Linked DNA regions of Homo sapiens. The protein of the gene in region 2 purifies or fractionates together with the protein of the main gene of each other region. This does not show direct contact. Each region holds a gene or a part of one and is shown on either strand. Other genes may lie near its edges. The genes, in order: KCTD3, EOLA1 and HSPG2.

Region 1 (3,653 bases), on a different chromosome or scaffold from region 2:
GGGATTCTTTAAACTATATCTGTAAACTTTAGAAGACATTTTAGATATTTTTCAGCTTATTGTGACTATTTTTCTTAACCGAACTCAACAGTGATAAACAAATAGTTTATGTATCTTTGATTTTTCTGCAATTAAATGAAATAATAATCTAAGCTAGTATATTCCAACCACTTTTGTGCTTCTACACCATTCTCTGTCATCAACATTTCTCAATGAGTACAGTGATTTTGAACTAAGAGTCCTATCACTTTCCCAATTAAAAAAAAAAAAATCACCGGTCTACACTATTCTTCATTGCTTCTCAGGCTCTGAGAATGTAAGCATTAGTAAAACCAAACTACTTCTTTGTAAGTTTCACATATTAGATATTAAACTATACCACTTGTGCAATAACTGTCCTGCTTTACTACCTCACTTCCCAAAATGTGGTATTTATGACCAATGTACTCTCCCTTGCTATAGAATACAAAACACTGAATCATTAGAGATAGACCATCAGGGAGCTCACATTAATAATCCTGTCTAACATCATTATATACTACAGTCTCAGAAGCTAGGTATAAGCAATAAATAATACATCAGGATATCTCAGTTACATGACAATTCACACTTGTCTGCTAAATGTTTACAACAGATAAAGGCTATCAGAAACATTTACCAAATTAGCTGTGAAAATAAAAGTACACTAAATCTTAATCAGATGATACAGACATGGGTAAAATATGCAGGGAAAAAACTTGATGACTAAAAAAAAATAGCTTTTCAATCTAAAAATATAAAATCACAATTAATTTTCAAACTGCCACCTGTAAAAGCAAAGCATTATTAATTATACACTACCTGTAACACACAGCAAAATGGGCATATGCAGCTACAATCCAGTTGTGATGGCCAGCTACTATTAGCACCTTTCGTGGATCCACAGGAAATCCTGTTGATTTTGGAAAAAGAAATATTTTACATTCTAAACCGGGGGTTGGCAAATTACAGCCACCAGGCCAGTTTCAGCCTTCTGCCTGTTTTGGTTAATAGTTTTGTTAAGAGCCGGGCACAGTGGCTCACACCTGTAATCCCAGCACTTTGGGAGGCCGAGGCGGGCGGATCATGAGGTCAGGGGATCGAGACCATACTGGCTAACACGGTGAAACCTCATCTCTATTAAAAATACAAAAAATTAGTCTGGCATGGTGGCGGCCGCCTGTAGTCCCAGCTACTCCGGAGGCTGAGGCAGGAGAATGGCGTAAACCCAGGAGGCAGAGCTTGCAGTGAGCCAAGATGGCACCACTGCACTCCAGCCTGAGCGACAGAGCGAGACTCCGTCTCAAAAAAAAAAAAAAAAATAGTTTTGTTAGAACCCAGCCATGCTTACTTGTTACATATTGTCCATTATGTGTTCATGCTACAATGGCAAAGTTGAGTAGGTCTGACAGAGAACACGTGGCCCACAAAGCCTAAAATATTTAATCTCTGGCTCTTACCAGATAAATTTTGGCAACCCTGTTCTAAAGATTCAGAGAAGATAGAAGATTACACAACATTTTAAATAAAAATTAAGTGTTAAATGAGACCTTTCCAAGATATAAATGATAAATCTGGATAAAAAAGGAGATGAGGCAAAAATCTTTAAAAGTAATTACTCAATATCACCCAGCACTAAAAACATACGTATTTTTCTTTTTCTATTTCTGTAATCTTTGCTTACCTAGCCTAACAGTTTCTTCTCCCGTTCCAGAGAGAACAGGCTGTGTACCATTTCCCCGGGCTTCACCTTCTGTAGAATTTAGACCATTCCTAGAATCAGCAGATCTGACTGTGTTGTTTATTTTACGACTAGGAATACCTATAAAGAGAAGAAGAAAACAAATACATTCCTAAGTTCACCTTTCAAAAATTAAAAATATCACATTGTGACAAAGAAACAAAAATGTGAATTTCATTAAAGCCGAAATACATCTTCCAATATAGCAAATTATTACAAATAATTTAATTACAATTAAAAAATAAAATGAAAATGAAAAAAACAAAGACAAAGACAAAATTCTGTCAACAGATTTCTGGTATTGTCATACTGTTTACAATAAATAAGCTTTAGGTTACTGAATTAATGGGTAATTAATTCAGTCTGCCAGCCACTCTTTACAATTATGGTACAGGTATTATGTGTTAGGTACTATGTAATAATTTAACTGCTTTAGAACTGAAATTCCCCATACTTTCAAACATTTTTTATTTGACAGGGGAACATTTTTTAAAATGAAATCTTGCTCAGAAGTCCATTATAACACAGGTAAAATCAGGCTCTTCTAACTAAAGTGGGGCTGAGGTGACACTGACTTATCTCTGCAGAATTCCTTAAATTTTGCAAAAAAGCAGTTTGACAACCAGTGCTCTAACATATGGGTCAGCAAACTATGGGCCATGGAAAATCCAGCCCAATCAATGCTATTTATGTAAATAAAGTTGTAGTGGTTACAGTTAAACCTAGTCTTCATGTAGTATACACAGCGGAGTTAAGTGGCTGTCACAGAGATCCTCTGGCTCACAAAATCTATCTGGCTCTTTACAGAAAAAGTTTGCCAAACCCCTGCTCCAATATATAATGTGACTTAATTTCTATAAAAATCAAAAGTTCTTACCATTTCTAATAGATTTATAGACAAAAAACTCAATAATCAAGGAGCAGTTTTTCCTATTCATATGCTTGTACTTGCTTAATGATACAAGGAATTTTTTAAAAGATTTAATAAAGTGAAAATACCTGGTGGGGGCAAGTAACCATGAAAAAGGACACTGCCACAAGAGGAACGCTCCAATTCTTCACATAAGAGAAGCCTTCTTACTAAAAACATTTCAAAGCAAACTTGTCAAGAGTACATGCAAACAGAAAAACAGTACTCCATTTTTATTTTCTCTAGTTCAAGAGGATAAGGAAAGAAAAGGAAAATTTTAATTAAGTCAGAGTTGACAACATCTTTTTACTATGAAAATCCACAAAAACTAAGCACTGAACAAGTCCATCAAAAATTAGGACCTGATATAAACACATTTCATTTAGGGCAACTTTCATACATGAGTCAAATCATAAACACCAAATATTAAAAGAGCACATACCTAATGGAGTGATCCCGTAAAATTCTGCTTCATGCCTGAGAACATTAATACTCACTCCCCTACAAAGAAACAAATGATGTAAATTCTCTAACACTGGAAACCTGTATTATCATCTGACATGAAAGGAAAAAATTCTAGGTTCTTCATGTATATAGTCATAAGGCTTTAAAAATTATTTTCCTCCTAATACTCTTTATTTCTATTATCCTTAATCATTAAAAAGTGTAAATAAAAACTGCATGTGAACAAAAATATTCTGTTATCTACTTAAAAACCATTCATATATATACATATATATGAATTGGGTCACTAAAGGAGAGATTAGGGCTCTATCAGGCTAGTACAAATAAATTGTCTAGAAGGCAAACGATAGAATGGAAACCATTCTTTTATGGCATTAGTTGCTTTTAACTTTTTATCGCAATTATTTCTATACATATCTATCTTAATCTCCCCAATTACACTATAAATTCCCTGCGAGCATGATCTATTTCTGATCTATGTTTGTATACCTCACAGTGCCTAGCATAGTGCTTGTATAA
Region 2 (2,563 bases):
ATAAAGGGAGAAAGGTGGGGGTGGGGGCAGAAGGTTCAGAGAGGAAGTAGAGACTGCGCATGTAGACAGCTCTTCTGAGGTCTCGGCTGTTCAGGGTTGTAGAGAAGGGAGGCAGAGTGGGAGGCGCGCGTGTGCTCAGAGTAGGGATGCTGAGCGAGCATAGATGGTGGCTGGTGGCACCCAGGGCCCGGAGTGAGCCAGAGGAGCAGGGTCCAGAGCACAGCAGGCAACCGGCTCAGCTGAGGCAGCTCACCCCAGAGGCGGGAGAAAAGCAGGAGATCTGGAGCTCAGAAGGCTGCAGTGCAGACTGGGAAAGGAGTGAATACCAGGCAGCTTTGGCCCTATCAGGGCTTTGTCTCATGAGGGTGGGTATATTTTCTTAAAATCATAGAGCGTACTAGAGGTTGCGTTTATGTGTTGAAAGGAAGGACAGAGAGAGGAGTAGGGGCAGCTCAAGGGTGGAGTTCAGGGCCGGGGGCGGGGCCACGGGCCTGAGGGGTGAGGGCAGCCACTATTTCTGACTGTTCTATTAGGTGCCACGTACTGGGCTGGGTGCTCTTGGTGCCTTATCTCCCTTCCTCACAGCCATGTGGAAACTGAGGCATCTCAAGAGTCTATGACTGGGCTGAGGTTCTGGTTTCGAGCCCAGGGTTCCTTCCAAGGCACAGGGCCGTCCTCCATGCAAGAGGAGGGGACCCTCTCCCAAGCCAGACACGCAGGAGGCTGGGCAAGAGTTGTGGGAAGTCAGAGCCCGTGTGACTGTGGGCTGGTGCCTCATTCTCCTCAGCCATAGAGTGGGCCTCACAGTACCACTGACCCTGCTGGGTTACTTGAAGATTCAATTTGATGATCCGAGGATCATGCCATCCCAGAGGCTGGCACGTGGAAGGCATGTGTGTGGGGTTGCTAGTTGTTCTGATTATCATTCTTCTTTTCTCAGCTCAGATTGGGACAGGGGCATCTGCTGACAGTGGAGAGCAGTGGTAGGGGAAGGGGCTTGAGGAAGGTGGCACCCAGAGGGGTGGAGAGGAGATGTCTGACTGAGGGCCATCTGAGGTCACGGTGCATCCTGAGGACAGAGCTGAGATTGGATATCAACGATGTGGGCTCAGCAGCCCTGGAGTAGGAGCTGGGAAGGTCAGTGCCTTGGTGGCGGCAGGGCCAGGGCACTGAGAGTATTGGCAGGGCACAGCAGGGGAAAGGGAAGAGAAGCAGAGGGTGGGACTCTCCCTCTGTGCTGGAAGAGGGCTAACACCAGCCCGGACTCTCCACTCTGGCTAGGCCAAGGGGGCCCTCTGTCCTCTGTGTTGCCCTAGGGCTCGGTGACCTCTGTCATAGCACTGACCACATGGTATCCTGCCTGTGCCTTCCTCTAGCTGTCCCCGCCCTACTCCGGACCGCCCCAAAGACTCCATGGGATGGACCTGAGTCAGCCGAATCCCAGCCCCTTCCCTTGGGCCTGCTGTGGTGCTGGACATCAGTGACAGACGGAAGCAGGAGACCATCAAGGTCAGTGCGATTTAGGCCACCTGAGAGACACGGGGGGAAGGTCAGGCCACTGCCCATGAGCTTGGAGGGCTGGCGTGTGATGCGCTTCTGTGCTTCCGCAGGCTACGGGAGGCCCGGGGCGCTTGCGAAGATGAAGTTTGGCTGCCTCTCCTTCCGGCAGCCTTATGCTGGCTTTGTCTTAAATGGAATCAAGACTGTGGAGACGCGCTGGCGTCCCCTGCTGAGCAGCCAGCGGAACTGTACCATCGCCGTCCACATTGCTCACAGGGACTGGGAAGGCGATGCCTGGCGGGAGCTGCTGGTGGAGAGACTCGGGATGACTCCTGCTCAGATTCAGGCCTTGCTCAGGAAAGGGGAAAAGTTTGGTCGAGGAGTGATAGCGGGTAAGTGACAATGTACCAAATGCGCAGACAACGCCTAGGGCTGCTGCCCAAGATCTTGCTTGGGAATTTGGGGGCTTCTCTTGTCATCTGAACTGATTGGCGTGTATAACACAGTTTCCTTTGGCAACACACCTTCAAAGGGGCGGCAAGGACCTTGGGCTGGGGGTTGGTATGGCTGGCTTCCACGAGTTCTGGTAAATCATTTCTCCACTCTGGGCCTCAGTTCCTGTTTCTGATCTCAGTGAGAAGCCTGGTCAGGGCCATGTGCACATGGTGTTTGTGGTGTTTGGCTGTGTGTATTTGCACATACATGTGTGAGTGCACATGTGTGGCAGAGACCATGAAAAGCAGCCCAGCCCGCCGAATGGGTCAGGTGGCCTCTAGAGTTGGGCTGCCCGCCTGGCTTCATGAACCTGCCCCAGCCCCACCACTCACAGCACCCTGGGAAAGTCCCCTAACCTCTAGGTGACTGAGGCCCGACATCAGCATCTGTCCCCTGGTGACCTGCTCAGGCATCACCTGTAGCTTCCCAGGCAGTGGCTGGTGCCCTTCCAATCTGCAACCGCTGCCCTCAGAAGTCTGGCTTGGACCTGCCTCTTACTTGTGTGGCTTCATGAGGACAAGGCCCTCTCCTCTGCCTTTCTGGAGCCCTCCCCCTGCCTCTCCCAGCG
Region 3 (3,653 bases), on a different chromosome or scaffold from region 2:
GGGGGCCTCCCACCCTGGGTCCCCAGCCCTGCCCTCCCTGAGAGCTACTCACCAGGCACTGAGCCCGCAGGCTCAATGGTGACCAGGACAGAGGCCTCTAGAGGCACGGAGCTGCCCAACACTCGGCACACGTACTCGCCCGAGTCGGCGGGGGACGCTTGGTAGAGTCTCAGCAGGGAGCCGTGGGTCTGGCCAGAATGGGGGTGAGTCAGAGGGAGCCCTCAGGAGACCCCTGTTCCTATAACCTGCAACCCTGCCTCACTCTGACCCCCAAGGCCTGGCCATCAGCTCTGGATCAGTTTCCCTGTCCTTCACATGGGGAAGGGGGACTCTTGTCCAGCAGCGGGGTGGTAGACCAGAGGAGCCCCAGTGAGCTGGGTACACACTCACACCACATCCCATCAATTCTAGACACACATTTCGATGTCTCCAAAATCAAGATGCATCTACAATGAATAACCTTACAAATAGAAGCTTTTTCTTAGAGGTACATAAAATCATAGCGGATCTCGCAATCAGTGGTATCCTAAATTCTACAAAATATGGTAACAACAATAGCTAATGGCATTATAGTAAAATATTAACAGCTTAGAGTACTTTCTGTGAGCCTAAGCTCTGAGGATTTTGCATATATTTTAATCTTTAAGATAATTCTGTGAGGTACTTTTTTTTTTTTTTTTGAGACTGAGTCTCGCTCTGTTGCCCAGGCTGGAGTGCAATGGCGTGATCTTGGCTCACTGCAGCCTCCGCCTCCTGGGTTCAAGCGATTCTCCTGCCTCAGCTTCCCGAGTAGCTGGGATTACAGGCGCCTGCCACTATGCCCGGCTAATTTTTATATTTTTAATAGAGATGGGGTTTCACCATACTGGCCAGGCTGGTCTCGAACTCCCGACCTCAGGCGATTCGCCCACCTCGGCCTCCCAAAGTGCTGGGATTACAGGCGTAAGCCACCGTGCCCGGCTGGTACGTACCATTGTTACCATTTTATAGGCCCTGAAACTATAGCACAGAGAGGTTAAGTAACTTGTCCGAGGTCACAAGCTAAGTGGTGGAGCCAGAATTCACACCCAGGTTAGTCAGTCCTAGATTCTGGTTTCTAACCACTGCACTATACATCTGTGCAATGGGGTCCAGGGCTTCCTGATCTCAGGGGAGCCTCTAGCCCTCCCCCAATAACCTCCGCCACCCAGGGACCCGCTTCCTCTTCTTGGCCTGTCTGTCCTCCAGTCCCATACCTGGTGCCGGACAGGGAGGCTGCCCCCACGCTTGTGCCACGTGACCTGGGCATGGGACTGCCCGGGCACCACGCAGTTCAGATCCAGGGTCTGCCCTTCCGCCACTTGCGAGGAGGAGGGCTCGATGCGGATGGGCTGGGTGCTGCCGGCAGCTGAGGGATAAGATGGTCACCGGTCACTCCTGTTCTCTGAAGCCACTCCAGCCTGTTCTCTGCATCCCAGCCCAGCCTGGTGGCCCCACTCACGGTAGGCTAAGTTGGCCCCCTGGGTCCCAGTTACTGTGACCGTGATGGAGGCCTCCATGCCGTTGCTGGCCCGGCAGACGTACTGTCCCGCATCGGCAGGTGAGGCCTGGAAGATGTACAGGCGGGAGCCACGAACCTGGGCAGCCGTGGGCAGAGGTGTGAGGGGGGCTTCCCGGAGGCCAGCAAATGCCCCACCGCTGTCCCCCCGATCTAGGAAGTGCCAGCCCCTCAGCCTAGGGGCCAGGATCCTGCAACCCACTGTCCATGGCCCCGTCCCACATTCTTGGTGCCCTGTACCTGGTGCCGGGCAGGGAGGCTGCCCCCACGCTTGTACCATGTGACCTGGGCGTGGGCCTGCCCTGCCACCACGCAGCTCAGATCCAGGGTCTGGCCCTCGGCCACTGTGGAGGATGAAGACTCGATCCTGACAGGTGGGATGGGTCCTGCAGCAGTGGGGATGGGAGTGAGAGTTGTAGATGCTCCTGAGATGAGAGGGCAGGGGTTGCCCACCCTGCAGCTAGCTCAGCCCAGGGTTTCAAGGCCAGATCCAGCTTTTCAGGCATCTGGGGGCCTGGACTTGATGCCCTCAGCTCAGCAACCCTGATGGGAGGACCAGGGCATGGGCCACGCCTTGCAGAGGGGAGTGAGGAAGTGAGAGAGATGAGGGCAGAGATGAGTTGGAGAGAGGAAGAGGAGGTGGGAGGGGACGCCTGAGGAGTCATGTGGCCAAAGCAAAGTGTGACGGGAAGGCGGTGGTTACTCTGACAGGTGGAGTCGGCCTGGGCAGGGCCCTGCAGCCAGCTCCGGTGTGGGCCTTCTGCCCTGTCAGCAAGAGGGGTCCCTTGGATCTCACCACCCCGGAGGCCTCTCTGCCTCCTCCAGCTTTCCATGTCACTGGGAGTCACTCACCAGGGATGACAGAGGCTTCGATGGTGACCAGGACTGAGGCCTCTAGGGGGCCGGAGGTGCCCACCACATGGCACACATACTCGCCTGAGTCGGCCGGGGTCACCTGGTGCAGCCGCAGCAGCGAGCCGTGGGTCTGTGTGCAAATGGGGTGGGTTGGGAGGGGGCTGGAACAGTCCCATCCAGCCCCTCCAGCAAGGTGGTCCCGGGGGGCTGCCATACCTGGTGCCGGGCAGGGAGGCTGCCCCCACGCTTGTGCCACGTGACCTGGGCGTGGGCCTGCCCGGGCACCACGCAGTTCAGATCCAGGGTCTGCCCTTCCGCCACGTGTGAGGAGGAGGGCTCGATGCGGATGGGCCGGGTGCTGCCGGGCACTGGACACAGAGCGGCTGCTCAGAGGCCTGAACTCTTGGGCTGTAACCTGTAGCCCTGGGGCAGAAGGCTCTGGGCTGTGACCAGGCCCTAGTGGGGACGGCCGACAGGTGGCCTTTCTGGGACTAGGGCCACACCCTTCTGCCTCCACATGGCCAGCCGAATATGGCTTCTTCCCTCCCCAGCCTCTAACCACAAGCTGGAGGCCCATTGACCCACCCATGACTTCTTGATGATGAGCTCCTCTGGCCCATAGGGAACCAGCAAGCTTTACTACCCAGGCTGCGCCCAAGGATGCGGATGACAGTGAGACACCTCCCTTCTACAGGACGTCTTCCGTGTGCTCACAAGTACTTTCCATAGACACTGTCTCATTTAAACCACACCATGACTGGCCAGGCGCGGTGGCTCATGCCTATAATCCCAGCACTTTGGGAGGCTGAGACGGTCGGATCACGAGGTCAGGAGATCGAGACCATCCTGGCTAACACGGTGAAACCCCGTCTCTACTAAAAAAAATACAAAAAATTAGCCGGCCTGGTGGCGGGTGTGCCTGTAGTCCTAGCTACTCAGAAGGCTGAGGCAGGAGAATGGTGTGAACCCGGAAGGCGGAGCTTGCAGTGAGCCGAGATCACGCGCCACTGCACTCCAGCCTGGGTGACAGAGCGAGACTCTCTCTCAAAAAAATAAAATAAAATAAAATAAAATAAAATAAAATAAAATAAAATAATAAAAAAACCACACCATGACCAAGCAGGTGGGCAGTACTGCTCCATTTCATAGATGAATCTGAGGCCCCAAAAGTTAAAAGCTAGTTCAAGGTTGCTAAGGGGCAGATCTGGGATTTGAACCAGGTCAGCCGACTCCCAGCTTAGTATTCAACCTGGACATTCTG

Evidence for each region.
Region 1: the proteins of EOLA1 (region 2) and KCTD3 purify together in Homo sapiens (co-immunoprecipitation; one large-scale study listed by IntAct). This does not show direct contact.
Region 3: the proteins of EOLA1 (region 2) and HSPG2 purify together in Homo sapiens (co-immunoprecipitation; one large-scale study listed by IntAct). This does not show direct contact.

What each region holds. Positions count from the first base shown.
Region 1 is NC_000001.11:215,577,187-215,580,839, reverse strand, and holds part of KCTD3 (BTB/POZ domain-containing protein KCTD3), read right to left. Parts: intron 3,171-3,653; coding exon 3,112-3,170; intron 2,912-3,111; exon of another isoform or gene 2,850-2,911; coding exon of another isoform or gene 2,840-2,849; coding exon 2,759-2,839; intron 1,841-2,758; coding exon 1,703-1,840; intron 932-1,702; coding exon 841-931; intron 1-840. UniProt on the Homo sapiens protein: Accessory subunit of potassium/sodium hyperpolarization-activated cyclic nucleotide-gated channel 3 (HCN3) up-regulating its cell-surface expression and current density without affecting its voltage dependence and kinetics.
Region 2 is NC_000023.11:149,543,992-149,546,554, forward strand, and holds part of EOLA1 (protein EOLA1), read left to right. Parts: exon of another isoform or gene 1-1,100; coding exon of another isoform or gene 1,101-1,137; intron 1,138-1,376; coding exon of another isoform or gene 1,377-1,509; intron 1,510-1,610; coding exon of another isoform or gene 1,611-1,639; coding exon 1,640-1,892; intron 1,893-2,563. UniProt on the Homo sapiens protein: May play a role in cell protection during the inflammatory response. In epithelial cells, negatively regulates IL6 production and apoptosis through the regulation of MT2A expression.
Region 3 is NC_000001.11:21,850,311-21,853,963, forward strand, and holds part of HSPG2 (basement membrane-specific heparan sulfate proteoglycan core protein isoform b precursor), read right to left. Parts: intron 2,761-3,653; coding exon 2,609-2,760; intron 2,523-2,608; coding exon 2,390-2,522; intron 1,924-2,389; coding exon 1,778-1,923; intron 1,617-1,777; coding exon 1,481-1,616; intron 1,388-1,480; coding exon 1,236-1,387; intron 189-1,235; coding exon 53-188; intron 1-52. UniProt on the Homo sapiens protein: Integral component of basement membranes. Component of the glomerular basement membrane (GBM), responsible for the fixed negative electrostatic membrane charge, and which provides a barrier which is both size- and charge-selective.